Linked DNA regions of Homo sapiens. The protein of the gene in region 1 interacts with the protein of each later gene in a biochemical or structural test. Each region holds a gene or a part of one and is shown on either strand. Other genes may lie near its edges.

Region 1 (8,053 bases):
TACTATGTTAGTTTGTTGTTCCAATGGTTCCAGCAACAGCCACTGGGGGCTCTTTCAGTTGGCTCTTGTGTCTCTTTGACATAGCCCCATCTGTGTGTGTGTGTGTGTGTGTGTGTGTGGTAAGTACTTCCGTGTGTGTGTGTGGGGGGGTACTTCCGTGTGTGTACTTCCTTACGTGTGTGTTGTACTTCCTTGTGTGTGTGTGTGTGTGTGTGTGTGGTAAGTACTTCCGTGTGTGTGTGGGGGGGGGGGTAAGTACTTCCGTGTGTGTACTTTCTTACGTGTGTGTTGTACTTCCTTGTGTGTGTGTGTGTGTGTGTGTGTGTGTTGTAAGTACTTCCTTACCTGCACAACAATATTCTCCAGGCTCGTCTTGTCCATCCCCTGTCCCAGCCCTAGAATCAACCATTTCTCCAGGGATCCCTGGTTCCTTTTATGGCGAATGACATTAGAGAACAAGATCTGGGCTCTGGGTGTGTCAGCCACTGCTGAGATGTCATTGCTTCTAGGCCATCTCAGCTGACAGAGCAAGGCCATGTTGCATACACCTGTGCTGCATAATTTTTAAATGGCTGGTTCTTGTTTGAAGGATGCAATATTTTTTCATTCTCTCTGAAGCTAGCAGTAGTTTTATTTTTATTTTTTGAATTTTCCTTCTCCACAGAGTCTGTTTCTTTCAAGATGCAGTTTTTTGTCTTACTTTTCTTAGCCATATGACATGGAGCTGTCTGTTCAGATTCAAGGGGGGCTGACTGGAAGGTCTAAGGCATGGTAGGGCTGGTTGATGCAGGATTCACTGCTGGGAAATCTGGTGGGGGTGGGGGTGTCATAATGTTCATACCTCAGGTCTTCCCTTCAGGGCTGGTCAGACTTCTGGAGAACAGCTTGCTGGCTCCCTGCCTGAGGACAGTCCCAGCTGCTGGTGCTCTGGGGGATTCCCGGAGGAGGAGGGCTAAGGGCCACTGGGTTCAGCATTCAGTTATACAGCCCCCAAATAACCCTGTTTCCATACAGTGCCACACCCTCAGCTGCGCCCCAGCTCAGATGCCCTCATTCTAATCATCACCATGGAAGAAACTTCCAGACTTCTGCCTTTCCCAATTCTGCCCTTCCCTGCCATGTCCTCACATGAGCCTGTCTGCCCAGCATGGCTGACTAGTTCCAGAATGGAAGCCCTGTCTGGGGGACCATCAGAGTCCATTGTTGTGGGTTTTCAAACTCCATTTGGGCCTGCAGTGGCCTCCATGGCCCTAGAGTTTCCAGACCAGCTCTGCCCCTACCTCCCCTGGGTATGATGTTACAGGCACCTCCCAGTAAACGTCCCCATTGGTTTAAGTGCAGTTTAGTTTTCTACAACACACAGCTGGGACAGCCCCGACTTACACCCTCTAGCACATCTCTGGGTCCTTGTAGGGGAGAAGGGAAGATGTGGGTTAGTGCAATGGGGGGAGGGCAGGCAAAGTGTTGAGGGGACAGAGGCAGTCAGCATAAGGACCTACACCATCCCTGCTGCATGGGCCGCACCCAGCTCTTCCTGCTTCTGTCCTTCTCCATGCCACTTCCTACAGAACCAAGGCAGACAGAAGTGAATCCCTTGCCCAGAGGAGCACAGCTGACAAGAGTCGGATTGGAATCCAGGCCAGTCAAGGGTGGGGGATATCAGGATCACAGAAACCCGTTGGCACTGTGGCTGCATACACAGCTGGCCTCCGGACAGGTCCCCAATGCCCCAGGCACCCCTAGCTCCTCCACCCCGCTGTGCTCTTGTCTTAGTCTGTTTCTTATTCTGTTGCTTATAACAGAATACCTGAAACTGGGTAATTTACTTTAAAAAAGAATTTATTTGTTACAGCCCTGGGGGCTGAGAAGTCCAAGGTTGAGGGGCTGCACCTGGTGAGGGCCTTCTTGCTGCTGGGGACTCTGCAGAGTCCTGAGGGTGGCGCAGGTGTCACATGGCCAGGGGGCGGAGCATATTCACAGGCCAGCTCAGGTCTTCCTTCCTCTTCTAATGAAGTCACCAGTCCCACTCCGGTGATAACCCTTTAATCCATGAATCCATCGACAGGTTAATCCCAACCACGCTTAGAGGCCCCACCTCTCAGTACTGCCACATTGGAGATTAAGTTTGAACATGAGTTTCATTGAGGATAAACATCCAAAACAGCTCATCCCAAATCTAAATGTTTCTTAAATCAACTAATCAATTAAAAAAAGAAAACCTCTCTGGGCTGAACAAGGCGTATCAGTGAGCTAAAGCCAGCCTACATGCCTGGCAGTGCCAATCTACCTCAAGGTCCTCAGAACTCTCCAGTCCCCTCACCTTTCCCTAAGACCAGGTGACTTGTGGCTCCCTGAACACAGCAAGCAGGTCCTCACATCTGAGCATGTGGGCCTGAGCGCCCTTTCTGCCTAAGTCACAGGCCCAACACATCCTGCTCGGCAGCCTCAGCAACAACTTCCTCCTGCCCAGAAGGCCTTCCTCAATTGCTTCTCCCCACCATAGGCCGGATCAGGTGAGACGTGCTCACGTGTCACACCTGGTTCACGTATGTCGTGGCAGGATCTTTTCACTTGGAGGGTTCAACCAGGATTCTTGGTGCTGTTCCAAGGCCCCCCTCCCCACCCTGTCACCTCAGCTTTGTGTCCATAAATGTTCACTGTATTTCATAAACCAGAAAAAAAGCAGTGTCTCTGCAATAAAAAGAACTCTTACAGAAAACTTAGTGTGAGATATGTATAGCTGTGTACATATGTACACTGATTTTTGGTTACTCACTTGACATGATGTGAGTGCTATGAAGTTAGGCCTGGAGTGCTGGGAACTGGTGTCCCCTCTGTTTTTTTGTTTTTATTTTTTTGAGATGCAGTTTTTGCTCTGTTGCCCAGGCTGGAGTGCAGTGGAGCAATCTCGGCTCACTGCAACCTCTGCCTCGTGGATTCAAGTTATTCTCCTGCCTTGGTTTCCTGAATAGCTGGAATTACAAGCACCCATCACCACGCCCAGCTAATGTTTGTATTTCTAATAGAGATGACGTTTCACCATGTTGGCCAGGCTGGTCTCGAACTCCTGGCCTCAGGTGATCCACTCACCTCGGCGTCCCAAAGTACTGGGATTACAGGTGTGAGCCACCGCACCGCCTTCCTAATGAGAAGCACCCATCAGTGCTCCTTGGTGGAACCTCAGATCTGACAGCTAGGCTTTTACTCTTTTCCCATAATCCTCGATCCTGACAATTTCTGGTTTCCTGTTCTCTCTCATGCACTTGAGGCAGGTGGCAGGTGAGTCTGAGGTAGCGACAGGTGTGGGCCCTCCTCAATGCAGGCCACACTGTGACGTAGAATTTCAAGCAGCGATGAGCCATGCTCAAATTTAGAAAACTCCCTCTGGTGGCCAAGGGGGACACCATGCTGGATCCGTTCCTCTACCCCACCCCTCCTCTGAGGCTCTGGTGCCTCCAAGCGGCCTGGCCCAGACCTCAGTGCCCTTGGAACCTGGGTCACAGGCTAGCTGCCCTCCCCAAATTCTGCAACCACCCTTCACGCCACCCAGCCCCTTACCCTCCCCATCTGCAGAGTCCTGTTCCTTCTCCCCACTCTGGCCCTGGCCACTCTGTGGATCCTGGTATTGTGTTACTGCTGTTCTACACCACACTCACCATTTGTCAACCATTGTTCCCACTCTTCTAGTCCCCAAAGGCCGGCTCTCCACGGTTTTCCCCATGTGCCCAGCCTCAGTGCCTCTCTTCCTGCTTCACTTTTCAACGTAGATCTGGCAACATCCCAAGCCCCGGCCTCTCCCATCCTGTACGACCCCCAGGCCGCTGGTACCTGATCCAGCCTCAAAAGCAGCTCAGAGTCAACGGGTCCCAGTCCCTAGGGGGCTCTGAGCAAGAGACTCCTCGCCCCGCCCCCCACTCCTCTCAGAGGCTTGACTGAGCACCTCCCTTTTTTTTTTTTTTTTTTTTTTTTTTTTTTTTTTTTTTTTTGAGAGAGTCTCACTCTGTCACCCAGGCTGGAGTGCAATGGCGCAATCCCGGCTCACTGCAACCTCCGCCTCCCAGGTTTAAGTGATTCTCCTGCCTCAGCCTCCCGAGTAGCTGGGATTACAGGCGCCCGCCACCACGCCCAGCTCATTGCTTCGTATTTTTAATAGAGACGGGGTTTCACCAGGTTAGCCAGGCTGGTCTCGAACTCCTCACCTCAGGTAGTCCACCCGCCACGACCTCCCAAAGTTCTAGGATTACAGGCGTGAGCCACCGCGCCCTGCCGCACCTCCTAATTTTTAGATGTTGTCAACTAAGTGATCCCGCCACCAAGCGCAGTCTCCTCCTGCGTCACCGACCCACCGGGTCACCTGTCTACACACCGCCATCTCTTCGCACCCCCTCCCCCTCTTCGACCCGGCTTCTGGCCTCACCCACACCCCCATAGACCCGTTCCTCCGGCGCCGCAGCGAGCAACCGAGTGCGAGGCCCGCCCCGCCTACCGGGCCCTAGCACGCCGGGCTCCCGGACGCCAGGCCGGCCTCCCCCCGCGATCGCCCCGGGCTCTCCCCGAAACGGGCGGGCTCCCGTGCCGCTCCAGTCGCCTCACCGCCACAAGCCTGCACCTGCAGCCCGAGGCCCGGCTCCCCGCGGACCCCGCGGTGTGAGCCCCGCGCGCCTCCAGCCCGGTTCCCGGTCCTCCGGGCCACCCTCTCCACCGAGCTGCGCCCCCCTCGCAGGGAGAGCGGGCTCAGCCGGTGGGCCGCGCAATGCCTGCGTCTCCAGCTCACCGCGTGCACTGCGCGCACCCGAGCGCCATGGCCACTCGGCCCGCGCCACTGAAAGGCCCGGGGGCGAAGAACCCGCGGAACCCCGGCCCAGGACCTCGGGCGCCCGACCCGGCCCCCGACCCCGCCCGCGCCACCCTCCATCGGCCCGCCCCCCAGGCGCCATTGGCCGCGCCTGCTCCGCTCTCCGCGCGCTGATTGGTCGGCGCGAGGGTCTGTCAGACCGGGCGCCGCGGCGGCGGCAGCGGCGGAGAAGGGAGCGGGACCGGAAGGGTCGCAGCGCCCCGGCGCCCCTCACACCCACTGCGGCGGCGGCGGCGGCGGCGGCGGCGGGGCGGAGCGGAGCGGGGCGGGCCGGCGGCGGAGCCGGGGCCGCGGAGCCAGGAGTGACTAGCACGCAGCGCCGCCAGTCCGCCCGCCCGCCCTCTCCCCGTGGCGCGGCGGCGGGGAGGCGAGGTGAGCCCGGCGGGCGGGCTAGGCCTGGCGGCGGCTGCTCGGGCCGGGCCCGCGGGGAGGGGCGGTGAGGGAACCGCGCGGCCGGGGGCTTCGGGGCGGGCCGGGGGCTGCGGGGCCCTGGCAGCCGCAGCCGTCGCCCCTGTGCTGGGGGATGCCGCAGGCGCCCCCTTCCGCCCGGCTGTCAGCAGCCCCGGGCTGCGGGCCTGCTCACCGGCCTGGCCCGGCCGACCTGCCCGTGGGGTCTGCGGGCGCCATCCCTCCCGGAGGTGGGGCAGACAGCTGCACTCCTGCGCCGGGTGCCCAGGGGCCCGGGGTCGCGTCCCCGCGACCTTGGCCAAGGCACTGACCCTCGCTCTGCCGCGGTTTTGCCTTCGGGAAGGTGGGGAAATGTCTCTTCTGGACAGGGTTGTTGTCAGGCTGTGTGAATGTATGCAGACGCCTGGGCAGGACCCCGGTGTGCATCTGTGGAAGACTGGGCAGGGTGCTGGCCCGTGCTGGTGTGAGTGGTGTAGGAACCCCCTCCCCACCCGCCCAGCCTCCCGCCTCCCCGCGCACTCCTCTCTTGCCTTGTCATTGCACACTCGGTGTCCAGCAGTGCCAGAGGGGACCCAGCCCGAATCCCTTACCACCGCGCCCCTCCCCCAGAAGACTGCTGCCCCGTCCCACTCATCTCGCCCGCCTTGAACATGCCAGCCCGCATTTGCCCCAGGACCTTTGCATTTGCTGTTTCCCCGTCTTTGGAGTTGTCTCCGTGATCTTGGCACAAGTAGCTCTTTCTGCTCCTTCCTCTGGTCAGATGTCTCGTTTTGGGTGAGGCCCTCCTCGACCACCCTCTTTCTTCCCTTAGTCATGCTATTTCATTATTTAAAAAATTTCCTTCCTAGCTCTCATCTGGTTTGAAACTATTCTATTTATTTGCCTGCTTATTTTCTGTCTCCCCGACTAGGATGTAACTTTGTGAAAACAGGTAGCTGTCTGATTTGTCCACTGCTTTATCCCCAGTGCTTAGAAAGCACACAGGAAGTATTCAGTAGTATCAGCTCAATGAATGAATGAATGATCAAAGAAATGGCCCAGCCTGCCTGTTGTCTCTGCTTTATCTGTTCATTTAGTGACTTCTGATTAGCGTGTGAAACTTGTAAGCAGATGGAAGCTTGTTCTATTTTGTGAAACATTTTGGTGTCCTTGACCCCTTTAATTGCTAACTGTTGGAACAAGCTGTGATATAAAATCTCACATTTTTATAATAGTTTAGCTGTAGCTTTCTTCCACACATACAAGAGACATTTACTGAATTCTGCATTATCTAGGTCATGCTTTCTGCTAGACCCTACGGACACAAGGCAGATAGCAACGGGGTCCCTTTCCCGAGAGAGCCCAGGAGCCCAGTAGAGAAGGCAGGCATGCAGACACTTAGTTCCAGGACTGTACAACCCTTGCTATAGGGGAGGGGCTATGCCATGGAAATGTGGAGGAGGTGACAGGTGGTGCTGGGGGGCCTTGAGGGTGATAAGAAATTTGCTAGGCAGGGAGAGGCACAGAGGTGTGAAGGAGCAGGGCCAAGGAAGGACCGTAGGCCACTGTGGAGTTGAGAATCAGTCTGGAGGGCCAGGTGTAAGGACACAGAGTCGTGGGGACCCTAAAGAACAGGAACCTTACCCAGCAGTTTTCTAGAAGAAGGTGGAATTTGGCTGGGTGCCATGGCTCACGCCAGTAATTTCAAGACACTTTGGGAGGCTGATGTGGGAGGATCACTTCAGGCCAGGAGTTCAAGACCAGCCTGGGCAACGTAGCGAGATCTGTCTCTACAAAAAATTTTAAGAAATTAGCTAGGTGTGGTGGCATCCACCTGTAGTCCTAGCTGCTTGGGAGGCTGAGGTGGAAGGATCCCATGAGCCCAGGATTTGGAGCCTGCAGTGAGCTATGATCACACCACTGTGCTCCAGCCTGGGTGACAGAGCAAGACCCTGTCTCTAAAAAGGAAGGCAGCACTCCACATTTGTTCTGATTTTTAAATGTTGGCAATAGCTAATTAAATTTTTTTTTAATGCTGTGAGCCAAGCCAAATACAGATTCATTCAGCTTGGTTGCAGGATCGTCATCCTCCAGGACTGGCTGTGTGGGAGGGAGGAGCTGTGAGGAGAGCAGGAAAGGTAGCCTAAGGCCAGGGGAGCCAGGCCCTGTTTGCCCAGGTGCCAGCCCAGATACTCATTTGATTGTAACTGGAGCCCTGTGGAAACGGAAGCTCAGGAGTCTAAGTAGTCTGTTTCTTAGCAAGCAGCTGGTGAGTGGAGTTCGAACCCAGATCACTTCCCAGATAAGGATTCTTTCCTGGGTCCCTCAGCTCTGAGTATTCTCTTTTGGCTTTTAACTTGTTCTGGAAGAATGACCACCAATCTATTTAATGTTTTCCTCCATTTAACTTTTTTTTTTCTTCAAAAGGATCCTGCAGAGTTAAAAACAATACTATTTTTGCATAGACTTCTCTTTTGACAGCTTTGATTTTCCTGGCAATTTAATTTTCAGGGTGCCAGGACTTTAATTTGTTCACAGATTAAAATCTGTTTATTTGGTCCCGTAAATAAACAACAGAGGGGATACTTGAATGTGTCTAAGATAAAATATTCTTAATTTTCTGGATAAAGAAAAGGACCAGACAAACCAGTTAATAGCGAGTAAACCAGTTGTTTTCATGAGGCATAAGATAAAACAGAGACCAGATTTTTTTTCTTCTTGAGACTATTGATTTGCCAATAGGGCAACTATTTTTGGTCTACATACATACAGTAGTTACACCTCACACTTGGTTAGGAAGGTGCCATTTTT
Region 2 (7,292 bases), about 120 Mb from region 1:
AGTGGCCTGACCCTGGGTTAGCAGTCATGGCAGTGGAGGAAGTTGGATGGATTCTCAGGCTACTAGGAGAGTGGCAATAACAAGAACTGGTGACTGATTGGAAGCTGAAGGTGTGAAAGCCAGAAGAGTAAGAGCACAGCAATTAAAGAGACAATGGCAGTGTTTACCCTGATGGGCACCCTAAACCACATGGAGATCTGAATGCAAGGATGAAGAGGCTGAGCAGGGCAGAGATGCAGCCTGGACATGTGACTGCCACAGTGCCTGGCAGAGGGGTCCCTCCTGGAGGAACTATCCTGGAGAAAGTTGTATGCAGGATTCTGTCACAAAAGCCAAGATGTCTTAGGCACCACAGTATCAATGAGTCAGCAAAGATACGGCTGATAATCTCTTAACAAATCCTTTTCTTCCTGGTTAAAGACTAGCTTTCCTTCAATCTTTGTACAAAACTTGAAATTTGGTTATTTAAGAATCTAGACCTGGCCGGGCATGGTGGCTCACACCTGTAATCTCAGCACTTTGGGAAGCTGAGGCGGGTGGATTACCTGAGGTCAGGAGTTCAAGACCAGCCTGGCCAACATGGTGAAACCCTGTCTCTACTAAAAATACAAAAATTTAAAAAGTTGGAAGTGGTGGCAGGCGCCTGTAATCCCAGCTACTCAAGAGGCTGAGGCAGGAGAATTGCCTGAACCTGGGAGGCGGAGGTTGTGGTGAACCAAGATTGTGCCATTGCACTCCAGCCTGGGCAACAAGAGCGAAACTCCATCTCAACAACAACAAAAAAAGAAGAATCTAGACCCTTGGAGCAAGAAAAATATCTTTAAGACTCCGTCTCAAAAAAAAAAATAAAAATTTTTTTTAAAAAACCGGAAAAGATCAGTATATTAGTGGTAGTGGTGATTATTATGCATTTTAAAGAAACTGCAAGGTATAAAATGACTCAGGTCAACAATAACAAAAAAGATTTCTCCACACAGATAATAGATAAGACATTCGGTAAGCAGCATCCATTTTTATGTAATTCTAAAGTACATATTTATTCAGTATCATCAAGGCTACAGAAATACATCTTACAGAACAGTTAGAGGTTTACCACTTCAAAGATCAAGACACTTTCTATAACTATCTTGGATAGTAATTTTCCTTAATCTATATTACAAGCTTTCCAACTTCACTTCACTGAGTATATTTTTAAATGGCAGAGGCTGCCCTAGATGGAACTAATTGTACCAATGCTAGGTGGCCCCCGACTGCAATGTTTTGAGTCCTATTCTCCCTCTCTCCTCTCACTGTCAGGTGTGCCAACACTGCTGCCTTTGGGGAACCTGCCTCTTGCAGGACTCACACCGCCACCCCTTCTAACTGGCTGCTTCTAATTGCTGCATGTTAGGAACACCACATGAACAACACTGCATGAACAACATCTGAAATAAGTATCAATCCTGAGCAAATGCCCTGGGAACTCTACTAAGTGTAAAATCAAAGTGCTTCAAAGCACATATTTTGTTACAGGTCCTTTGGCTGCTTAGAGTATTTTTTCTTACTTCTTAGTGCTAACCCATGTTCTAGATAAGAGAGGCTGCTGGGTTTACTTACCAACAGTAAACTTTGAAATGTTTTGTTACATGGGTTCTTGGCTTCTGCAATCTCATGGAGTACTTGCCTAACAAATATTTTCTTCAATGGAAATGTGAACTTTTATTTATCCCAAGTTGAATTATGATCAAATTAATGAATTTTGGATGAAGTAGGGTTATCAGATAAGAATTCTAAAAATGATATCTTAAGTTTAGATGACATTCTGAGAACTTTAAAAATAAGAATAATTATATTAATGCATGACACCTTTATGTGTATATTTATTCACAGATGTATGTGTGAATATATAAATGCATATATATACACACACGCACTCTTAACTCCCTATTAAGTACAGAATAATTATATACACATAGCAGACTCTTCTTACCTATAAAGTTGTCATGCAGTATAGCTATTTGCTCTCTACTACATTAAGCTGTCCTATTTCACTCGAGCCACCAGGCACGTCTACAAGTCCAGGTACCTCTGAATGAGTCTATCACAAATCTACAGTGTTGAAACACCATAGTCTAGACTTTTGCCATTTAACACCTTTTCAGCTATGTCCTAAACTACGTCTGACTAAACAGGAAAAACAGTGGATCCACTAATTTGAACATGCCATGCCATTATCCCTCTCATTCATTTATTCAATAAATATTTATGCAGTGTCTACCCTATGCCAGGCATCCTGCTAGGTGCTAGGGGGAAGGCAGTCATTCATCAAATGAGGTAACAAATGTAAAAGCACAACACTGACAGTAGGGACACCCTGCTACAAAGCCAGTCTGGGTGGATGAGGGAAAGCTTCCCTGAGGAAGTGTCAATGAGTTAAGATTTTAACAACGAGGAGCTGACTTTATGGAAAAACAGTGTTCCTGGCAGAGGGAGCATGTGAGGGCCCTATAGAAGAAGGCAGTGAGTGAGTCTGAGGAAATGAAAGCACGCAACCCTGCCACGGAACAAGGGCAAGTGTGAGCTGAGATGGGCCTGGAGAAGCAGACAGGGGCCCAACCGGGCAGGGACTCGGTCAGGCATGTTAAAGATTTCCTGGTCTTTATCCAAATGGAAGCCATCTGAACATCTTAAAATTAAATTACATTTACTTTTCTGGAGGGAGGAAGTTATGATCAGATTTACATTTGGAAATGATCACTCTGGCCACCTAATACAGATTGGAACGGACAGCAAAGGAGAAAGGACACAGGGATCAGGCAAGGAGGCCACTAAGTTAGTGGAAATGAGAGACAATGGGCACCTGGCTAGGGGTGTGATAACAGGTCAAACTGCCAGCACCTAAGGATGGTCTGAATCTGACGAGGTGAGAGGAGGAGGTGTCAAGGGTGACTCCTGGGTTCTGGTTCTGCCATTTAATGAGCAGGGAACATGTTAGGAGAAGGTTTAGGGAAGATCTTTAATTTGGTTTTAGACATCTGACTGCGCAGAAGTCATGTAGCCAGGTGTAGGTCTGGACTTTAGGAGAGATCATGGTTAGGACAATAAACTCTGCAATCATTTGTAAATGGTCCATAACTGATCTAAGGGCATTAATAAGACTGGGGTGGGGATCGACAAGACAGAATGAGAGAAGGCCTAGGACCACCCTGGGAATCTTCCAGTATCAATGTTCAAGAGAATGAAGATGGGCGCCACGGAAGAAGTGTCATGGTTAAGTAGAAAATCAGGAGGGGCTTACCAATTAACGCAAATAATTAGACACTTTCAAATACCAGGAATTCAGTTTTCTCAATATTTGACAGTTTGAGCATGGCTCCAATTATTTTGTAACTACACTAATTATTAGAAGGCTCACATTACATAAAATTGGTCAATATTATCAATGACTGCTTGCTAAATGCCAACTACTGCTATTAAACATCAAGCAATGGTCTGGCCGCAGTGGCTCATTTCTGTAATCCCAGCACTTTGGGAGGCCAAGGTGGGTGGATCACTTGAGGTCAGGAGTTCAAGACCAGCCTGGCCAACATGGTGAAACCCTGTCTCTACAAAAAAATACAAAAATTAACTGGGCATAGTGGGGCATGCCTGTAATCCCAGCAAGCTACTCGGGAGGCTAGGCAGGAGAATTGCTTGAACCTAGGAGGCAGAGGCTGCAGTGAGCAAAGATTGCGCCACTGCACTCCAGCCTGGGCAACAGAGCAAGACTCCGTCTCAAAAATAAATAAATAAATACCAAACGATATACAAAAACTCCTAAAAAAAGACAGTTCTTGCCTTCAAAACTCGTCTTAAGCTAGATCATGATTAAAATCTCACTACAGTAAGTTAATCTTCAGATATACTAATTTAACCACTTTTGGAAAATTAATTCATGTTAACATTTCTGGGTACCTAATATTCATGGGTGCCAGACACTAGTCTAGATGCTGGGAGATGGTGCAAAGAATCAGATAAAGTTCCTGGTCTGTTAACAACTGATGTTTAGTATTCAGAATACCATAAGACCAGTTTGAAGATTATGTGTTAACATATAACTTAAATTATTGTTTAGGCAATGAAGAAAAGTAAAGCCAGACACAGTGGCTTGCACCCATAGTTCCAGCTATGTGGAAAGATCACCTGAGCCCAGGAGTTCGATTCCAGCCTGGGCAACATAGTGAGAACCCATTTCTAATTTAAAAATAAAAAAAGAAAAGTAATGATAACATCTGTCAAGAGCAAAGCTTCCACCTACACCCCAGTACTGACCCTGTTCTCACTCCATGTCTATCCATCATTATGCTTACAAGTGATGAACTTAGTTAACGTACTAACTACAGTACTGTGTAGGCTGTCCCATGTGGCTCCAAGCACTTTCTCCAGGCTTCAAGAGGTCTGGTGGCTTAGTAATTCCCAGGTGACAGATGTGTACTTGCAGAATTATACACTTGGTGAGTTTTAACAATTCCCCTTAGTATGCTACAACATCTCCACATCTCGATCAAATTAACATCTGCATCAAACCAGCCTGGTATTCCAAAGGACTCAATCACTAACAATACAGAACTCCCTTCCATACCAAACATAACTCAATCACCAATGACATGCCATAGAGTAAATAAAGACAAGGCTATCTTCTTGATCATCTTATGCCCTAAAGAATATTTTATATTTCTCCATGTTGTTTTCGTAACTAGTAGAGTTGCTGTTACTAATAATAAAGACAGAATTTCAGAACTAGCAGTAGCAGATGTTGAATTTCTTGCTCCCCGTATCTCCTTTTTAATTTTCCCTTGGAAGAAAAAAAAACATGCCTGAACATGCAGTGTTGTATATATTCTTATCAGAAAATAGGCAGAAATAGTTTGAAACTAATATGTTGTATCCCCTCTGTATCCCCATCTCTCTTATAGCACTTAACACGGTATTGTGAAACATGTTCATACTACAACCTACCGACAGAAACAGCTTGTGCACTCATGATCTTTTTCTCCACCACTCAAGACCACCACCTTGCAGAAGTTCATAAATGTTGAATGGATGAAATCTAAAACAATAACAAAGGGGTAGGGTCTAGCAATAGTAAAAGTTTCTCTTCCTGTGTGATTACCATGAATGAACCATATTAATTTCAGCTTATCTCCTTTCACTTATGATTTAATACAGCACAAATCAATAAATCTAAGAAACATTCAACACTAATGACTAACCCTCTTTGGCTGACATGATAGGGTGATCCAAATACAGTTTACTTGTATTACATATACAAGGCCAGGTTACAGAAACATACCTATTATATACATTAACAGGCAAACTTAGCACAGGGTAGAGACCTAGCTCATGGTCTATTAGAATGCCTGCAAAACAAATTTCTCCTTAAAAATAATCAATTAATTTGATTATTAATTTGAAAAAAGAAAATGGAAGAAGCAGAGTAGTGGAAAGAAATGGACTGTGGAGTCAGTCTGACTTGGGATTGAATCCTAGCTGTCTTCTAGTTGTGTAATCATGAGGTTTTACCATCTCAGATGAGTTTGCACCTACAGAAAACAGAAATTACACTATCTTAGGGGGCTGCAGTGATGATCAAATGAGATTATATATAAACATATATATAATACATATAATAGATATCATACACACACACAGAAGGCAAAAGAGTTGATTATGTAAAAGGTATCTAGGCATATCTATATGCTCAATGAGTATGTTTTAAGCCACAGATAAAATCCTAATATATTTTTGCAAACTGAAAAGAGTATCTGACTAATCTCATGCTTTGCAATGAACCATTTACTAATTCCGGCCCTGATTATTTCTTTCATGATTAAACATGTTCTTAAATAATTTCTTAAAGACAACTTTGGGTTACTCCTAATCTTACACATTTCCTCACATTAATAGTCTACCATTTACATGTTTAAGTTGCTTTAGCTTTTAACTTAGGATATAGAAAGAGGCAAGGACTAAGGAAAACAACCAAGTCTATACTTGATATATTTGATAGAAGCAAAGAATTCCAAGATTAGAGGTGTAATATACACGCAGTTCCTAAGCAGCCTCTAGAGACTACTACTTTTCCATGACACATTTTCCCATCGCCTTCTGTGTAACAGACAGCCCTCAACCCAAGAAGATGACTGGAGTACAAAATGCAAAAGAGGTGCTTTCTACCTGAGAGCATTTCTGAATGCCCCATATTTTTCCTCATGGTAATCCATTCCCCATTAACTACCTTGCCACCCCCTCATTTCTTCCTTTGGGATGCACACAGCCAGTGTCAAGGACTGATTAGCCGACTCAGCCTAGGCAAGCTGTAGCTGGTTTTTTTTTTGCTCTTGTTGAAAGCAAAAAAACACTCCTTTCTTCCCACATTTTGAAATCTGCAAGTTGACAAGTCAGTGGCCATTTCTAAAATATGCAACATATTATGCTCGAGGTGCTATGGAAGTTGTAAATGAATATCAATGAACAGGGCTACTTCCTGTTTTTCGTATCTAACAAAATGGAGTTTTAGTGCATTGGAAATCGTATATTAAGGAATGTTGGTTAACCAGTCACTCTTGCCAAAATCAGATATGAAAAGAAAATAAAAGTTGGCAACAATTCTAGCTCTTATATTTCTCTTCCAGAATTATATTAAGGTTCATCTTTGAAGAATGCATTAATTTTCTTATCTGATTTAAAATGAAACTGACACCATTCTTAACTAAAAACTTACAAATTCACGGAAGACTAACTTATGTGACTACCTTTATTTTTATAAAGTCACCCACTTAATATTTTAAGAGTAATTTTTAGGTAATAATGCTCTTATACCTCCTCTTTAGTAAAAGGTCACTAAATCATATTTTTAGCCTAATAGCTTTAAAAAGGAAGTGAAATCTGAGGGCTATATGAGGATATAAAAGCAGCCTGTGAAATACCTTTAGTTTTAAACAAAAACTAACATTAACAAGTACAGCATATCTTGTTCTTTCACGGGGCCAGCAAATTGATAGTTTGGTTTTTTAAGTTACAAAAATAGGATGGGGTAATTATATCTACCAAACTCACAATAGGCTGTTCAATGGAGAGTAACACTGTAATTTTTCTTCAAAGACAGTAAATAGGAAGAAAAAGCCCCTAAATTCTGTAATATAAGGAAAAATTCCAAACCCTTGGGCGCCACTTACAGGCACTTTCACTGATTTCAGCTATCACCCTGAAAAAGAGGGACAAACTTAAAATCTTCTATTTAAATACGAGTATTATTTATTTATATAAATTCT
Region 3 (7,292 bases), on another chromosome or scaffold:
TGATCCTTGAGTGATGAGGTCACTCTTGCCTTTTGGTGCCGAGTTTAGGAAGGGCAAGCCTAGAAGTGCTTGGGAGGCCAGGTGAGGGGAAGGAGGGGTTGAATCCAAAGTCCTGGCAGGAGTGTCACCCAAGAGATGGAAGACATTGGGAGAAGAAGGGACAAGAGCATGAGGGCACCTCTCCAGCAACTCTTCCTGCCTTTGCTGACCCTGTCTCCTACCCCAATCCCGCCATTGGCGGGCTTCTGGGGTCTTGCCCAGGGCCCCACAGGACACAATGCTGGTTTCTCAACTTGCTCAGTGCTTTATTGAACCAAGGCCCTAACAGATGACTCAGCAGGGCCTTCAAGCACAGCCCTGCCCCCATCTTGAGATTCAGAATCCAGAGGGTGCTCAGTCCTTGGTTTAGCTGCTTCTGTGACATTTCCTCTTGAATAGCTCCAAACCCTAAGTGTAAATATTTTTGTCCACACAAATAGGCACACATATATTCCTGCTGCAGGCTGTCATGCTCAACAAAACGCTCCCACCTGGTTTGGGTATGCAAGGCACTGCGCATCCACGGCCATCCACGGCCATCCACCCATCCATCCAACCTTCCATCCATCCGCAACAAGACAGCAGCAAGTTCTGAGCAGTCAGGCCCCAGGGTTCACAGCAGTAGGGGCTGGGCTTCCAGCAGGCTCATGATTCAGGCCTTAACCCTTGCCCTGGGAGCCCCCAAGGATAATAACATCCCTTTCTGGGGCAACAAAACTGGGACCGAGTGGGTAACTGATATTTGACAGGGGAACCTAAACAGTCTACGGAAGTGTCCTGAGATGGGCGTAAAGTCAAACAGACCAAGCACACAGGTAACACTGAAATAGGAAAGAGTAAGAGCTTCTGTTCAGGCTGGAGGTGCTCGTATGGTGGGACAGGAAAGGGGAAAAGAGAAAGGGGCAACATGGCAGACATACCACGGTTCCTACAGAGATTAGGGGCAGCCCTGGCCCGGGAAGTACACAGGGCAGAGAGCTGACTCTCAGGCCAGGAAGGAGTTTAGCTCTGACCCATCCTCAGGGACCACGGCTCTCCCCCAGCCTCAGCTGACACACACACAAAGGAGCGTTTCAGGACACAGGAAGATGAAGGGTTAACCCTAACAAGGAAACAAGAAGCTCCTGGAGGACACAAAATACTGCCTTTAAGCTGGTATTAACCCAACTTAACTAACTCAACAGACTGGGCTCTTCCAGGGGTGGGGGGCACCAGGATATGGAAAATGATGGGATGACACAGGGGAATCTGGGCTGGGGCAGACAGGCAGGACACCCACACCATCTTTCCCATGGACAGCACCTGAGGCCTCCAGCAGGCCCTCAGCCCGGCAGGCCCATAGGGCAGCTGGCTTCAGGCCTCGAAAGGCAAGGGAGGTAGCAGGACTGGCGCAGGCCCCTCACTGGTCCTGCAGCCGGCTACAGAGCTCCCGCCGGCTCCGCTCCCCAGCCCAGCTGCGAGTCTTGAGGCGGAAGGTCTTTAGCTCATCCTTGAAGGCCTCGTGGTTCATGGGCCGGTAGTCCTGGGGTTCACAGAAGTTCTAGGGCAGGACAGGAGGGGTCAATGCAGTGGAATGGGTAAGTTTGGCAGGGACCCAACCCTCCCACCCCCCATCCCATGGCTCCAGCCTGGCCAAGCCAACCCTCACACAGAGACTGTGGCCTTCCCCACCCACGCTACCGGGTGCTGAGGGAAGAACTCCTTGTAGCCGCCTTTCAGGATATACATCTCAGGGTAGTAGAGGCTGGGGTAGTCGTTGACAGCACGGTCTCGTTCCCTGATGAAACGGCACCTGGGGCGTCATGGGCAGGGTGTGGTCAGAGTGGGGCATGCAGTGGCTTGTACATCATGGGACCTATCCCCCACGTCCCCTCCTTTGAGGGCCTTGGGGAGCCACAGAAAGCTTTAGAGCACAGGAATGTAACCACAAGAACACTTTTAGGTCACTCTGGCTACAGAAGAGGGTGGGGAGGCGGAAGGAAGGAGGTAAAATCAAGGGGATGAACTCTCCGTTTCTAGAAGGCAGTTGCACAATCTTTGTTAGAGATATCTGTGCCTGGACCAGGAAAGGAGAAGCAGGAGAGGAGACAAGTGGGCCAAATTCAAGGGATCCATTCGGGCCACTCCTGGACAAGACCTGGTGAGGATCAGTGGTGGGGAGAAGGGAGGAGGAGGACCCAAGACTGAAGCCAGTGCCCAGGCCCGGTGCCCAGGTGGAGGTGGGTGCCATATGCTGGGATGCCTGGAGAAGTTGGGAGGGCCGCAGGGATGCGACTCTGTAAGGGGCGTCTGGGTGCAGATTCCCACCACATGGGTGAGGCCAGGCTGGGGAGCCACTAGCAGTCATATGGACCAGTGGCAACCCAGGAGGAGGCAGGGGTGGGAGGACAGATGGCCAGGCAGAACAGGAATAGCGACAGAAGGAGCTCAGCCAGGGAGGCCCAGGTGCTGTGGATGCCAATGGAAGAGGTTCTAATGGAGACCTAACAGCACTGAACATGGGGAGGGTCCGTGTACTGGGGACTGACACGCGGCCCTTAGATTTCGAGAAAAGACACCGCTAGAGACTTGGAACTAAATTTTCTGAGGGTGGCAGTAATGGATGTGGGGTGGACATGAGGCTTGATAGGCAGGACAGTGAGGGAGATGGGAGGCGGGTACCATGCACAGTGAAGTGGGGCTGAGGTCAGCTCTAGGCCATCAGATGGGACAGAGGAGGACCTGGACTTGCACCCCTGGCCATCTCAATGGTGCCAGCACCTGTGAGCCTGGGCAGGGAAGGCCAGGGCAGACACTAGCTGGCTGGGCGGAGCTGGGACTCACATGCGGGGCCCACGCTCAGATGAGAATTCACAGTGGAAAATGAGGATGACTCTCTTGTCCAGGCTACAGGGCGCGATGGGGCTCTTCAGTAGGAAGCTCTCGGCGTCGCGTTCCAGGGGCAAGTTCACCGCAGTCTGTCAGAGGAGCCAGAGGTCAGGCACAGCCCCGGGTCCAGGAGTCAGGGCCCTCCCCGTGCAGTCGCTGTCCTTCTCTTAGTAGGAACCCTCCCCATGAGAGGGGGCACCCGTCCTCCACCCATTCACCCTCTTGGCAAAGCAAGGACCTAAACCAGGTGGGATCTTCAGGGCCTCTCCCCATTGCCCCATCTTACCTTGATGTGCCCGCCTTCATATTCATAGGGGTATCTGCAGTCTACAATCACAAACTTATCCACGATGTTGCTGAACTTGCCCGTCAATAGGGCCACCATCTGTAGGAGGTCATGGGGGTTGGTTCCGGCAGGTCAGGCTGGCAGCTGGCAGGTGGCCCTAGCCTGTCCCCAGGGAAGGTCAACAATGGAGCTACAGTCCCAAATCTGCCTAGAAAATGACGCAACGCTGTTTACCGTTTCTGGTGAGATGTACTTGAGGTCTTGGTGCTTTCCGTCTACTGTCTGTAGGAGGAAGGCCTGAAGGGAACGGAAGGGATGAGGGAGAGGGGAGAAAGTTAAATTGGTAAGACCAGGAGCCTCAAAGAATGAAGTTTCATTCCCAAAATCAGAGGCCACACCTGCTTTGGCCTTCAAATTCAGTTCTGGTTCCCATGGCAACTGAGAGGCACCTCTTGGGTCTGACACCCAGGGAACAACCTTCCAAGGGGAAAGAGAAATGAAAAAGGGAAGTGGAAGAGATGAACTCCACACTCTGCTCCCTACCCTCTGCCAAGCCCGAAGGTGAGGCATGAGGGGGTTCCAAGCTAGGTATGAGCTTGGAAATAAGACGGAGACTCAACAGATGCCTGGACTGACTTGAGGTGGAGTCAGGAGACAAGGAGGGCCAGAGGGAGGAGTCTATGTGAGAACAAAGGATGAAAAGATACAAAGGACAAAGAAAAGGGGGGCTCCGGGGAGAAAGGGAGGAACCCAAGCAGCCCCTGGGCTAGAGGACCCCTAGTCAGTAAGAGGTCAAGCCCCCAAGGTACCCCCTTCGCTGCTGCAGGTACCTTAGAGTAATCTCCAATCAGCTCTCGGTGGTCACTGTCCAGGAGGTTCTCGATCTCATCGTGACACAGTGATTTTGAGCGGAGGACGCGGGCTTTCTGGAAAGTGAGTCAGATGGAGGCCAGGGTCAGGGTGGGGCTGCCCCCCAGTGCTCTGGCTGGCTGGTACCCCCTTTCTCTGCCATGCCCAGGCTGCCACCTGCCCTCTGCCACAAACTTAGCCAAGGGGGTGGCTGCCCAGGTGCATGCCAAAGTGAACCCCAGGAGGAAGGCACTCACAGGTTCCTCAGCCTCCTGCTGCTCCTCAGGAGGGGTCACGCTCCGCCTCCGCTTATTCTGCACGGGCGTGTCCCTGTCCTGGGGCCGCTCCAGCCTCTTGAGGATGGGCCGGATCACGCTGCAGGGCATGGACGGAGAGCGGAAGAGCCGCTGGCACTTGCTGTACATGACGAGGTCCTGGCAGGGACAGCAGGTTAGGGATCAGGGTGCCCAGGCCCCGTCCCATCCCTCAAATCCACTGGAGAGTAGGATGGACCCCATGCCTCCAAATTCGGAGGGGGCCACCCCAGAGGCCCACCTTTTCCTCTTCCTTTTCCAAGGTCTTGACCAGTGGGGCACTAATGAGACTCTCCATGCCTGGGGGAACTGCATCATCATCCTGAGGCCAGATTAGCAAGGACAGGGTCACAACCCACAGGCATAGGCCAAACCCCTCCAGTCCCGGAATCCTCCAGCACAGCCTTCCCTGTTTCCCTGGCAAACTCCAGGTTGGGGTGAGAAGCTCCCCTACCTCCCAAACCGCCCTCCACTGTGGCACCAGCCACCTGTTCTTCTCTCATTGGCCAGAGGTTAGGCTGTGACTCAGTTACCTCAGATTCTTCTTCTGACACTGGAATGACATCATGGTCCTGCCACAAGGGCTCAGAGCTCTCTTCTTTTGGGCGAACCCAGGGATAGGAAGGTAGGGGCCTGGTGGGACAAGGCTGTTTACCTTTAAGTCACTCTCTAGGATGTCCACAAATCCATCATCTTCCTCAGTATCCCCCTCTGCAGGGGTCAGAGAGAAGCGACCTAGGGCCAGGGGGCTGAGCTCCTCCACTTCCATCTTCCGGTCAGGACTGAGACACTGTCCACATGACAGACAGACACAGACTTAGAGGTGGAGATAGTTCCCGCCCCCATCCTCCTGAGGAAAAGTTCCCAGTGCCTGGGGGTTCAGGGCCACCCTCCTCTTCTCCGAGGCTGCCTCCCCAGGCCCCTCCCAGGGATCCGCTCTCTGGATGTACCATCAGGTCGGGGGCCGAGCTGGGTCTCTGGGCAAAGGCTTCCCTGCGGCTGGCCCACTCTGCCAGAGCATGGGTGGAGCTGGGATGTGTGGGCTTCCATGGCATCTTGAAGACAAATCCATCCTGCAGCCAAGATGGGAGAGGAGGGTCCTCACATGCCAGGGAACCACCCCAGCATGCCCCCTCCTCTTCCCGGAGAGCTCCCACCCCGGCCTTCCAGAAGCGCACATTCTCCTTGTCTTCCCCAGAGCTGCTGGCAGCTCCACTGCCCGCCTCGCTCTTCCTCCGGCCGTCGGGCGCCTGGGAGTTGGTGATGTTCCGAAGCACGGGGCTGTGGCCCAGCAGCCTCACCTAGAGAGCCAGGCAGGGCGGCAGGCAGAGGAATGAAGGCTGCATTCCTCCGGCACGAGCCCAGGCCCTACCTTCTCCACCTCTCCTCCAGCTCCTCCCACTTACCTACCTACCTCTGAAACCCCATCTCCTACAGCCTGCCTGGGGACACCCAGCTGGGAGGTGATCCCTGAATGCATCCTGCTCATCTACCCCATGCCTGGCTAGCATGCCTAAGCCTCAGTCAGGCCTCGAAGACACTCACCGGCATAGACTGGAAGCGTCTGATGGCAAACTGCTCGCTACAGGAGGAAATGGGGACAGGTGAGAGCTGGGAGAGGCAGGGCAGGGACCAAGAGCATGCAGCATGCCCTTCTGGAGCCCTGTCCTAAGGGAAAGCTTGTGGTAGATGGAAGAGGCCCAGGAACACTTACTTTCGAATGATCCGGCTGGCTGCCTGGATGGCCTGTTCAAACCTAGGACAGAGAAGGGTCCCATGCAACCCATGCTCCCTCCGCACCCATCACCCACCCCAGCACCAGGCCCCCAGTCCAGGGGGGAGTAAGGGCAAAGACAAGGGCCAAGGCTCAAGGCAGTGGAAGGGGTGGGGTGGGAAGAACGCCCACCATCAGGGGGCCCAGGTATTGGGGAGGGGGAAGATAAGAGGCAGCTTGGAATTTTAAAGGCTGCCCTGAATGAAAGAAAGCCCAGAGAATGGCAGTGATAGAGACAGCTGGGGCAGGTCAGGGTCAGGGAGGCGTCACCAAGGCAACAGTCTCGCCAGCCTGCACCAGGCCTTCCACCTGTATGCAAATCACCTCAGCGGGGCCATATGGCTGCCAGGAAAGGCATCCATCCATCCTATGATAGGCCAGGGGCACCCAGCAATGTGGGTGTCTCCAGGGCCTGGACAACAGCAAGGCTAGGCTTCCTCTCCCCTGTGAGGAGCTGGCCTGGCTCCCGGTCCTCTGAGGACTGGGGCCTGCTTTAGGGCTCCCCCAGTCAGCTCCAGTCTGATACAGTAGACCCCCAGTGACAAACGTGCAGGCTCACATCCTCTCCTCCCTCCTATGGAATTTTCCAGGACCAGCCTCTGTCCCACCCCCTCCTCCTGCCTTAGAAGAGGCCAGCAGGCAAGGAATTCCAACACATGTTCCCTCTGAGGCCCCGCCCCCTCAGCCGTGTTACAGGAGACCACCTGCCACGCGGAGCTTTTGTGCATCTACGCGCGCGCGCGCACACACACACACACACACACACACACACACACACACACACAGCTTCTGAGAAACTCTGTATAACTGTCAGAGCAGGTGCAGGGCAGGGAACCACTCAGGGATAAAGTATGAGGGGGATGCCCCCCCGGGGGGCTGCTGTGCCCAGCCAACCTGGCATCAGGGATGACCAATTTCATTGGCTTGCACATGGGCCTTGGGGGTAGGGCAAGATTGCTCTGTGCTGCCACCAAAACCAACCTGCAGTCCCCCAACCCCACCCAATCCTCTCCCCATTTCCTGTTTGTGAACCAATCTGCAGCCCAACCCAGTCTGATCAAAGGCAATGGGAGGTAAGACAAGTCACTATCCTAAACCCAAAGCCACAGTCCCCAGCACAGGCCAGAGATGCCCAGCTGTCCCTACTAATGGCTGGCAGCTG
Region 4 (7,292 bases), about 42 Mb from region 1:
TTAGAAATGACTGAGACGCCAACCTGGGATAATGTGGACCAGAAAAGCTGGACTATAAGCACCTTTAGGGCAGGGGTCTAAGTATATCTCTGTATATACCCTGAACGCCTGGCATAGAGCTTGTAGATGGTCAATAAATGTTTATAGACCTGAACCACTGGAAGTATAGAGATCACTGCGAGGAATGTTCATGAATAGTAAGTGTTTGCAAAGTGCTTCAGTCCTTGGATTAATGTTTTTATTTCTAGGTAGGACCCCTTGGCTCCTACAGAAAAGAGGGAGATAGATCTAGGAGGGAAAGGGAAAGTAACCTGCTTAAGGTATACAGAATTAAAACAATGAGGACCTCAGCCTTGAGGTGCTTCAAATATGTAATCTTTGTCCTGACTCTAGAGTTCATAGACCCCTTTGTCCACAGACTCTTCTCAATAAAGAGTTATCTCCAGCCCTCCCCTACTAATGGCCACAATGTCGTCTCACCTGGATGTGTCCTCCCAGATACTCATATGGATAGCGACAATCAATGACATAAAACTTCTCAATCAGACCCTGGAACTTCCCCGACAGTAAGGCAGCCACCTGGACAGAAACAATGACTGAATATTCTGCTCACTGCCACTCTGAGGGAGAGAAGGGTCAATGACACAGTTCCTTACAAGCATACTCCTGTTCTGTCCACTGTATGTCCAGCCTCCAAAGTCACCCCATATTTGATATGTGGCAATGATTCAGCCCCACTCCACAAAAGAGAATGAAACAGGAAGTGGCCCTTTTAGAGAACCAAAATAGCTGGCACTGACAAGATACCAAGGAAAACCATATTCAGGCTACCCATCTGGGGATAGGCATGGCTGGACTCAGGAGATGCCCAAGGACTTCTGCAGTGGCAGAGGCAGCAGCTAGAGAGCTTGAAATTGCAGGAAGAAATGCAAAATGGTTCCCTACCCACCATCAAAAAGGAAGAAAGTAAGTCTTTCAGGAAAGGATATGGAAGGGAAAGGTTGATACCTAAAGGAAGGAAGAAACTGAAGCTACTTGTAGGAGTGCAAATTGGTTCAGCCTTTCTGAAGGGAACTTTGTAAATACATATACAAATAAATGTAATCACACTTTGACTCAGCAATTTCTAACATCTTAAGTAAACAGGAAAAGTACACAAAGATGTAGGCACAATTATATTCATCTCAGCATTGTTTTATATTATCAATATATTAGAAATAACTTCAATATTCAATAATAGGGGTTTGGTAAAATAAATTGTACATGTCAGTAGAATAGAGCGGCATTATATAGCCATTAAAATGATAATATAGATACCTTATTGATATAGAAAGATGTCTATAATGTCTCACTAAGCAAATTGCAATACTATACGTTCATCATGATCCTTTTTTTTTGTTTTTTGAGATGGAATTTCGCCCTTGTTGCCCAGGCTGGAGTACAATGGTGCCATCTTGGCTCACCGCAACCTCTGCCTCCCGGGTTCAAGCAATTCTCCTGCCTCAGCCTCCCGAGTAGCTGGGATTACAGGCATGCGCTACCACACCCAGCTAATTTTATATTTTTAGTAGAGACGGGGTTTCTCCATGTTGGTCAGACTCGTCTCGAACTCCCAACCTCAGGTGATTCGCCTGCCTTGGCCTCTCAAAGTGCTGGGATTACAGGTGTGAGCTGTGCTAGGCCCATGATCCCATTTCTATAAAACATATGCTAGAATAAAATCTGGGGCTGGGCGCAGTGGCTCACACCTGTAATCCCAGCACTTTGGGAGGCTGAGGAGGGTGGATCACCAGAGGACAGGAGTTTGAAACCAGCCTGACCAACATAGTAAAACCCCGTCTCTACTAAAAATACAAAAATTAGTCGGTGTGATGGCTGGCACCTGTAATCCCAGCTACTTGGGAGGCTGAGGCAGGAGAATGACCTCCGGGAGGCAGAGGTTGCAGCAAGCCGAGATTGTGCCATTGCACTCCAGCCTGGGCAACAAGAGCGAAACTCCATGTCTAAAAATAAAATAAAATCTGGAAGGCCATAGGAAAATATGACTAGTGGTTATCTCTGGTGATGAGATTGTGGGTATGGTGACCAAATAATTTTTGTACAAACTGGGAGACTTTTGAGAATGAAAGCAAACACTATTAATAATTACCCTCACTAATAGATGAAAATGGGATTGTAAAATGTAAACGAGGGTGCATGGTCACCCTAATTGAGACCTTAATTGAGACCATTTCTTGTGTGTGATTTTTTATTTTCCTTTCTTTCTCCCTTTTTTCTTAAGTAATTATTATTTTTTGAGACAGTCTCGCTGTGTCGCCCAGGCTGGAGTACAGTGGCACGATCTCTGCTCACTGCAACCTCCCCAACTGGGGTTCAAGCAATTCTTGTGCTTCAGCCTCCCAAGTAGCTGGGATTATAGGCACACATTACCACGCCTGGTTAATTTTTTTGTATTTTTATTAGAGATGGGGTTTCGCCATGTTGGCCAGGGTGGTCTCGAATTCCCTGCCTCAAGTGCCTGAGATCTGCCTGCCTCAGCCTCCCAAAATGCTAGGATTTCAGGCGTGAGCCACCATGCCTGACCCCTCCCTTTTTCCCTTTTACAAAAACTATGTATCATTTGTTTAACTAAAAACGAAGGAGAGAGAAGAATGGGGAAAAAAATGAGTCCTTCAATATAACTTCAGTTGAATAAGGAGCCTGTGTGAGTGAACACAGTGAAAGAAATACAAATGGAAATGGGCATTTTAGGGACAGAAGAGACCAGATGGTAGCTTATGTAACCAGTTACCATCTCCAGAAATCTGCTTACTGTTTCTGGGTTGACATACTTCAGATCTTGGTGTTTCCCTGACACGGTTGGCAGCGCACATACCTAGAAATACACAAGAGCTGAAATAACAGCAAGTATTCCACACCCAAGTTTGAGATCAAAGACCCTTATTTTGTCCTTCTTTCCAAGTGACCCTTAAAACCCCAGAGGCCTTCAAAAAAATCAGTGTCTCTATAAAGTGCATATACATCAAGTCCATTTCTAAGAACTGATCCTAAAGAACAAATCAAGGATGTGTACGAAGTTTTAGATTTCTCTACAAATATATTCATCTTGGTATCATTCATAAGAAAAAATTGTAAAACCAAATATCTTACAAGAAGGGATTTATGAAGAAATTATGAGCAGCCAAAAAAAAAAAAAAAAGAAATAATATGGAGCTATTAAAATGAAATGGGCTGGGCATGGTGGCTCATGCCTGTAACCTCAGTGCTTTGGGAAGCCAAGGAGAGAGAGGATTTCTTGAGGCCAGGAGCTCGAGGCTGAAGTGAGCTATGATCATGCCAATGTACTCCAGCCTGGGCAACAGATCAAGACCTTGAATCTTAAAAAAAGAAAGAATGAAGCATAACTGCTTATTAATATGAAAAAAGATGCCCCTGATATAATTATTAAATGAGAGGAAAAACAACAGATAACAAAACAATATAAACTGTTTTTGTAGAAAAGCAAAAACTGTATTTGTATATGTGTTTGTGAAAACACAGAAAAAAATCTGTAAGAATATGTACCTTCTGCAATTACACAGACAGTAGGGGGGAAAAAAAGAGTATATACTAAGCAATATTACCCTGGTTAATAAAGTTTGGGATAAATTTCTTCATTTTCTACTTTTTCTGTAACAACCAAGTATTATTTACATAATTTTAAAATATGTTTTTAAACAGAAAAAAGGTAAAAAGTCTCATACTTTCCCCTGTTCTGGATCTTCCCAGAAGAATAAGAAATACTTTCTCTCTGGAAAGGCTTAGGGCCTGGATCTACCACTAGAGCACTGTCAGGTTACCAAAGAGTACTTGGTGAGGATGCATATTTACACCAGGCATTCTCGGCAAACAGAGAAGATTCAGATCCAAAATGACTCACTGAAATACAGGATGGGTGTAGCCAAACTCACCTTGGAAAAATCACCAATCAGGTGCCCCTGGTTAGAATCTTCCTCCAGCATCTGAGTGATAGTAATGTCACACAGAGAGACTGTCTTCTTTAAACATAAGCCCTGAAGATGACAAGATTCCCACCCCACACCCAATCCTCATGTTAAAGGTTTAAAAACCAGTGGATGGAGTGGGCCATGGTGGCGCACATCTGTAATCCTAGCTACATGGGAGGCTGAGGTAGGGAGATCACTTGAGCCCAGGAGGCCAAGGCTATAGTGAGCTACGATTGCACCACTGCACTCCAGTCTGGGAGACAGAGTGAGACTCCATTTGTTTATTTATTATTTTTAATAATAAATAAATATTGAGGCTGCAGTGAGTCAAGACCATGCCACTGCAATCCAGCCTGGGTGACAGAGTGAGACCCCATCTCAGGGGAAAATAAATAAATAAATAAATAAGTTGATTTTATAAAATATCCAAAGATTTTAGAATTTTAATTTTTTATTTTATTTTTTTTTATTAGAGATGGGGTCATGCTATATTGACCAGGCTGGTCTTGAACTTCTGACCTTAAGTGATCCTCCCATCTATTTAATTTTTTTAAAGTTGGGGAGGGTAAAGGACAAAGGCTAAGTTTTTCAGAAGTTGCTTTCCACAAAACCAACCTGCTATATGATGTTGTTTCTGTCAGACTGCATGTAAAACAGCAGTAAAATATCCATACCAAAGTTCCCTTGTATTCTTTCAGATCTTAAGAAAAAGGGTTGGGAAGACGGTATGATGACAACATTTCTCTTTTTTTTTTTTTTTTTGAGACGGAGTCTTGCTCTGTTGCCCAGGCTGGAGTGCAGTGGCACAATCTTGGCTCACTGCAACCTCCACCTCCCGGGTTCAAGCGATTCTCCTGCCTCAGCCTCCTGAGTAGCCGGGACTACAGGCACATGCTGCCACGCCCAGCTGATTTCTTGTATTTTAGTAGAGACGGGGTTTCACCGTGTTGCCCAGTCTGGTCTTGAACTCCTGAGCTCAGGCAATCCGCCCGCCTCGGCCTCCCAAAGTGCTAGGATTATAGGCGTGAGCCACTGCACCCGGCCTATGACAACATTTCTAAAAGTACAATATAGATATACTTTATGTATCTATGTTATATAAATATTTTATATATATATATATATTTCACGTGGATACAGATGTAGAAAAGACAGAAAGATGGAAAGAACAAAGAGGAAAAAGTAAAAGTAAAGAGGAAGAAGACAAAAAAGGCATAATAAAACAATCCTCATACCAGAAAAGCAAAGACATGAGATAGAAGATGAACAAGATTTTCATCTTAAAAAGTTCTTACCTTCCTGAGCTTTCCTTGGCCAGAAAAATACTTTTTTTTAACTTTATCTGGTATTGTGTTGTCCTTGAATTTTTCCACCTGCTTCAGTCTTGGCCTGTTCAAGTTCTCTGGCATCGACGGGGAGCGATATAGGCCACTTCTGCTCACCTGTTTGGGAATATTAAACCCCCTAGTTCTTACTCCTCCAAGTGTGTCTGCAGACCTGCAGCAACAACATCTCCTGGGAGCTTCTTTGAAATGCAGGTTTCCAGATGTTAGGCCACACCCCAAACCTACTGAATTAAAATCTGCATTTTAACAAGATGCCCAGGTGATTTCTCAAGTTTGAGAAGCCTTGGGTAGGCAACCTGTCTTCATAGGCCCGTTAATATCTTTCTACCTGGACTGCATGATATTCCATCTCCATGGACGTCTTAACTAGCCAAACCAAATTCTGCAGCTGACTGTCTTAGATGCACCAGTTCTTCTAACAGAAAGCAAACACAAGCTCAGTCCCTCCAGTTATGTGACCAAAAAAAAAAAAAAAAAAAAAAACATAAGTCCATTTTGTCTCTGGGATCCTAGGACATTGACAATCAGGATTTAAGGACCTCAACAAACCTAAAGATGAAAAGCCAAGAAGAAAAATAGCAAAAGAAGCATCATGCAAGAAAAAAGGACACACTAAAATCAAATAGCATGCTGACCATTATAGGATGGATACTATGAAACCCATCAGGGAAAAAAAAGTGGCTCAAACGTCATGAAGAACTAGCCTTGAGAATTGCTTACACAGGAACAGATTAAAGTATAAGAGGATAGACTGTTGTTTATTTGAAAGGCATGGTTTGGGTGCTATATTCAGAGTTGAGGGTCTATCAAATGACCTCTGATAACACCTTCCAACTAATCCACAATTCTATCCTCTGTTGCCACATACTTTGAGATCTCTACCTCTCACCTAGAGAACAGGCAAAAGCTCCTTCTCTAAACACTTATCGCACTACCTGTTATGGACTGATTTAGGAGGGGGGCTATACAATAAGAGAGCCATAACTGGAAGGCAGCTTGATGATCAATGGTTTCTGGAAGAACGAAATAAGAATAACAACATTTTGCTTTATGACAGCTATGGATATTATGTTGTTTATCACACACATGGTCCTACCTCTTGTTCGTGATACCAGCTGATGGTACCGTCCACATTATACGTACCCTTAGACTCCTTCCAAACATCGCCCTATGTCCCCATCCACCCTACCCCCCAGACACTGATGACTGGACCATATTGCTGGTTGAACACATCTATTTAGTGGTCTAGAATAAGCAAAAATAATCTAGGCCAATCAGGTTCCCTCTCTTGGTTGCCTAACTTGGAAGATGGAGAAATAATTAGGCAGTAGCAGAAGCCAAAGCCCAAAAGGAAGAAGCCAAGAGATACAGTCAAGGCCACGAAGCCAGTGATGCATGAATGGATCAACCAAAGGTAGGGTAGGAAAGGAGATATGGTGAGGCACTGAGGAGTAGGGTGCCTGGTCTCCATGACAGACAGGACTTCATATAACTTCAATTTTCCCCTGAGAAGGCAGGGGAAAGCTAGATGAGGATTTCAAAAGGGGCTTCTCTAGAACACACCATAATAATTATGCTAAGAGCCATATTACTAAGAGTTTGGAATTAATTAGCTAATTGAAACTTATCTTTTTTTTTTTTTTTTTGAGATAGGGTCTCGCTGTCACTCTGGTTGGAGTGCAGTGGCACAATCTTAGCTCACTGCAACCTCTGCCTCTCAGGCTCAAGCGATCCTCCCAACTCAGCCTCCTGAGTAACTGGGACTACAGATGCGCATCACCATGCCCAGCCAATTTCTGTATTTTTTATAGAGAGAGGGTTTTACCATGTTGTCCAGGCTGGTCTCGAACTCCCGGGCTTAAGTGATCCATCCGCCTTGGCCTACCAAAGTGCTGGGTTTACAGGCATGAGCCACCACGCCCAGTCTGTATCCATTTTTAAGCATTGTATCTAATAAATT

What was found.
Region 2: the proteins of MAPK9 (region 1) and MAP3K1 form a complex in vitro, tested with the Homo sapiens proteins (one study listed by BioGRID).
Region 3: of the proteins of MAPK9 (region 1) and CDC25B, one has a biochemical effect on the other in vitro, tested with the Homo sapiens proteins (one study listed by BioGRID).
Region 4: of the proteins of MAPK9 (region 1) and CDC25C, one has a biochemical effect on the other in vitro, tested with the Homo sapiens proteins (one study listed by BioGRID).

The regions. Positions count from the first base shown.
Region 1 is NC_000005.10:180,289,022-180,297,074, reverse strand, and holds the start of MAPK9 (mitogen-activated protein kinase 9), read left to right. Parts: upstream 1-4,991; 5' UTR 4,992-5,227; intron 5,228-5,799; exon of another isoform or gene 5,800-6,037; intron 6,038-8,053. UniProt on the Homo sapiens protein: Serine/threonine-protein kinase involved in various processes such as cell proliferation, differentiation, migration, transformation and programmed cell death.
Region 2 is NC_000005.10:56,818,502-56,825,793, reverse strand, and holds part of MAP3K1 (mitogen-activated protein kinase kinase kinase 1), read right to left. Parts: intron 5,562-7,292; exon of another isoform or gene 5,049-5,561; coding exon of another isoform or gene 4,978-5,048; intron 1-4,977. UniProt on the Homo sapiens protein: Component of a protein kinase signal transduction cascade. Activates the ERK and JNK kinase pathways by phosphorylation of MAP2K1 and MAP2K4. May phosphorylate the MAPK8/JNK1 kinase.
Region 3 is NC_000020.11:3,799,108-3,806,399, reverse strand, and holds the end of CDC25B (M-phase inducer phosphatase 2), read right to left. Parts: intron 6,353-7,292; exon of another isoform or gene 6,113-6,352; coding exon 6,071-6,112; intron 5,939-6,070; coding exon 5,902-5,938; intron 5,658-5,901; coding exon 5,535-5,657; intron 5,430-5,534; coding exon 5,307-5,429; intron 5,147-5,306; coding exon 5,012-5,146; intron 4,679-5,011; coding exon 4,598-4,678; intron 4,477-4,597; coding exon 4,300-4,476; intron 4,120-4,299; coding exon 4,024-4,119; intron 3,671-4,023; exon of another isoform or gene 3,592-3,670; intron 3,491-3,591; coding exon 3,428-3,490; intron 3,293-3,427; coding exon 3,194-3,292; intron 2,997-3,193; coding exon 2,863-2,996; intron 1,832-2,862; coding exon 1,720-1,831; intron 1,580-1,719; coding exon 1,439-1,579; 3' UTR 285-1,438; downstream 1-284. UniProt on the Homo sapiens protein: Tyrosine protein phosphatase which functions as a dosage-dependent inducer of mitotic progression. Directly dephosphorylates CDK1 and stimulates its kinase activity.
Region 4 is NC_000005.10:138,286,689-138,293,980, forward strand, and holds part of CDC25C (M-phase inducer phosphatase 3), read right to left. Parts: intron 5,429-7,292; coding exon 5,282-5,428; intron 4,053-5,281; coding exon 3,951-4,052; intron 2,876-3,950; coding exon 2,813-2,875; intron 580-2,812; coding exon 481-579; intron 1-480. UniProt on the Homo sapiens protein: Functions as a dosage-dependent inducer in mitotic control. Tyrosine protein phosphatase required for progression of the cell cycle. When phosphorylated, highly effective in activating G2 cells into prophase.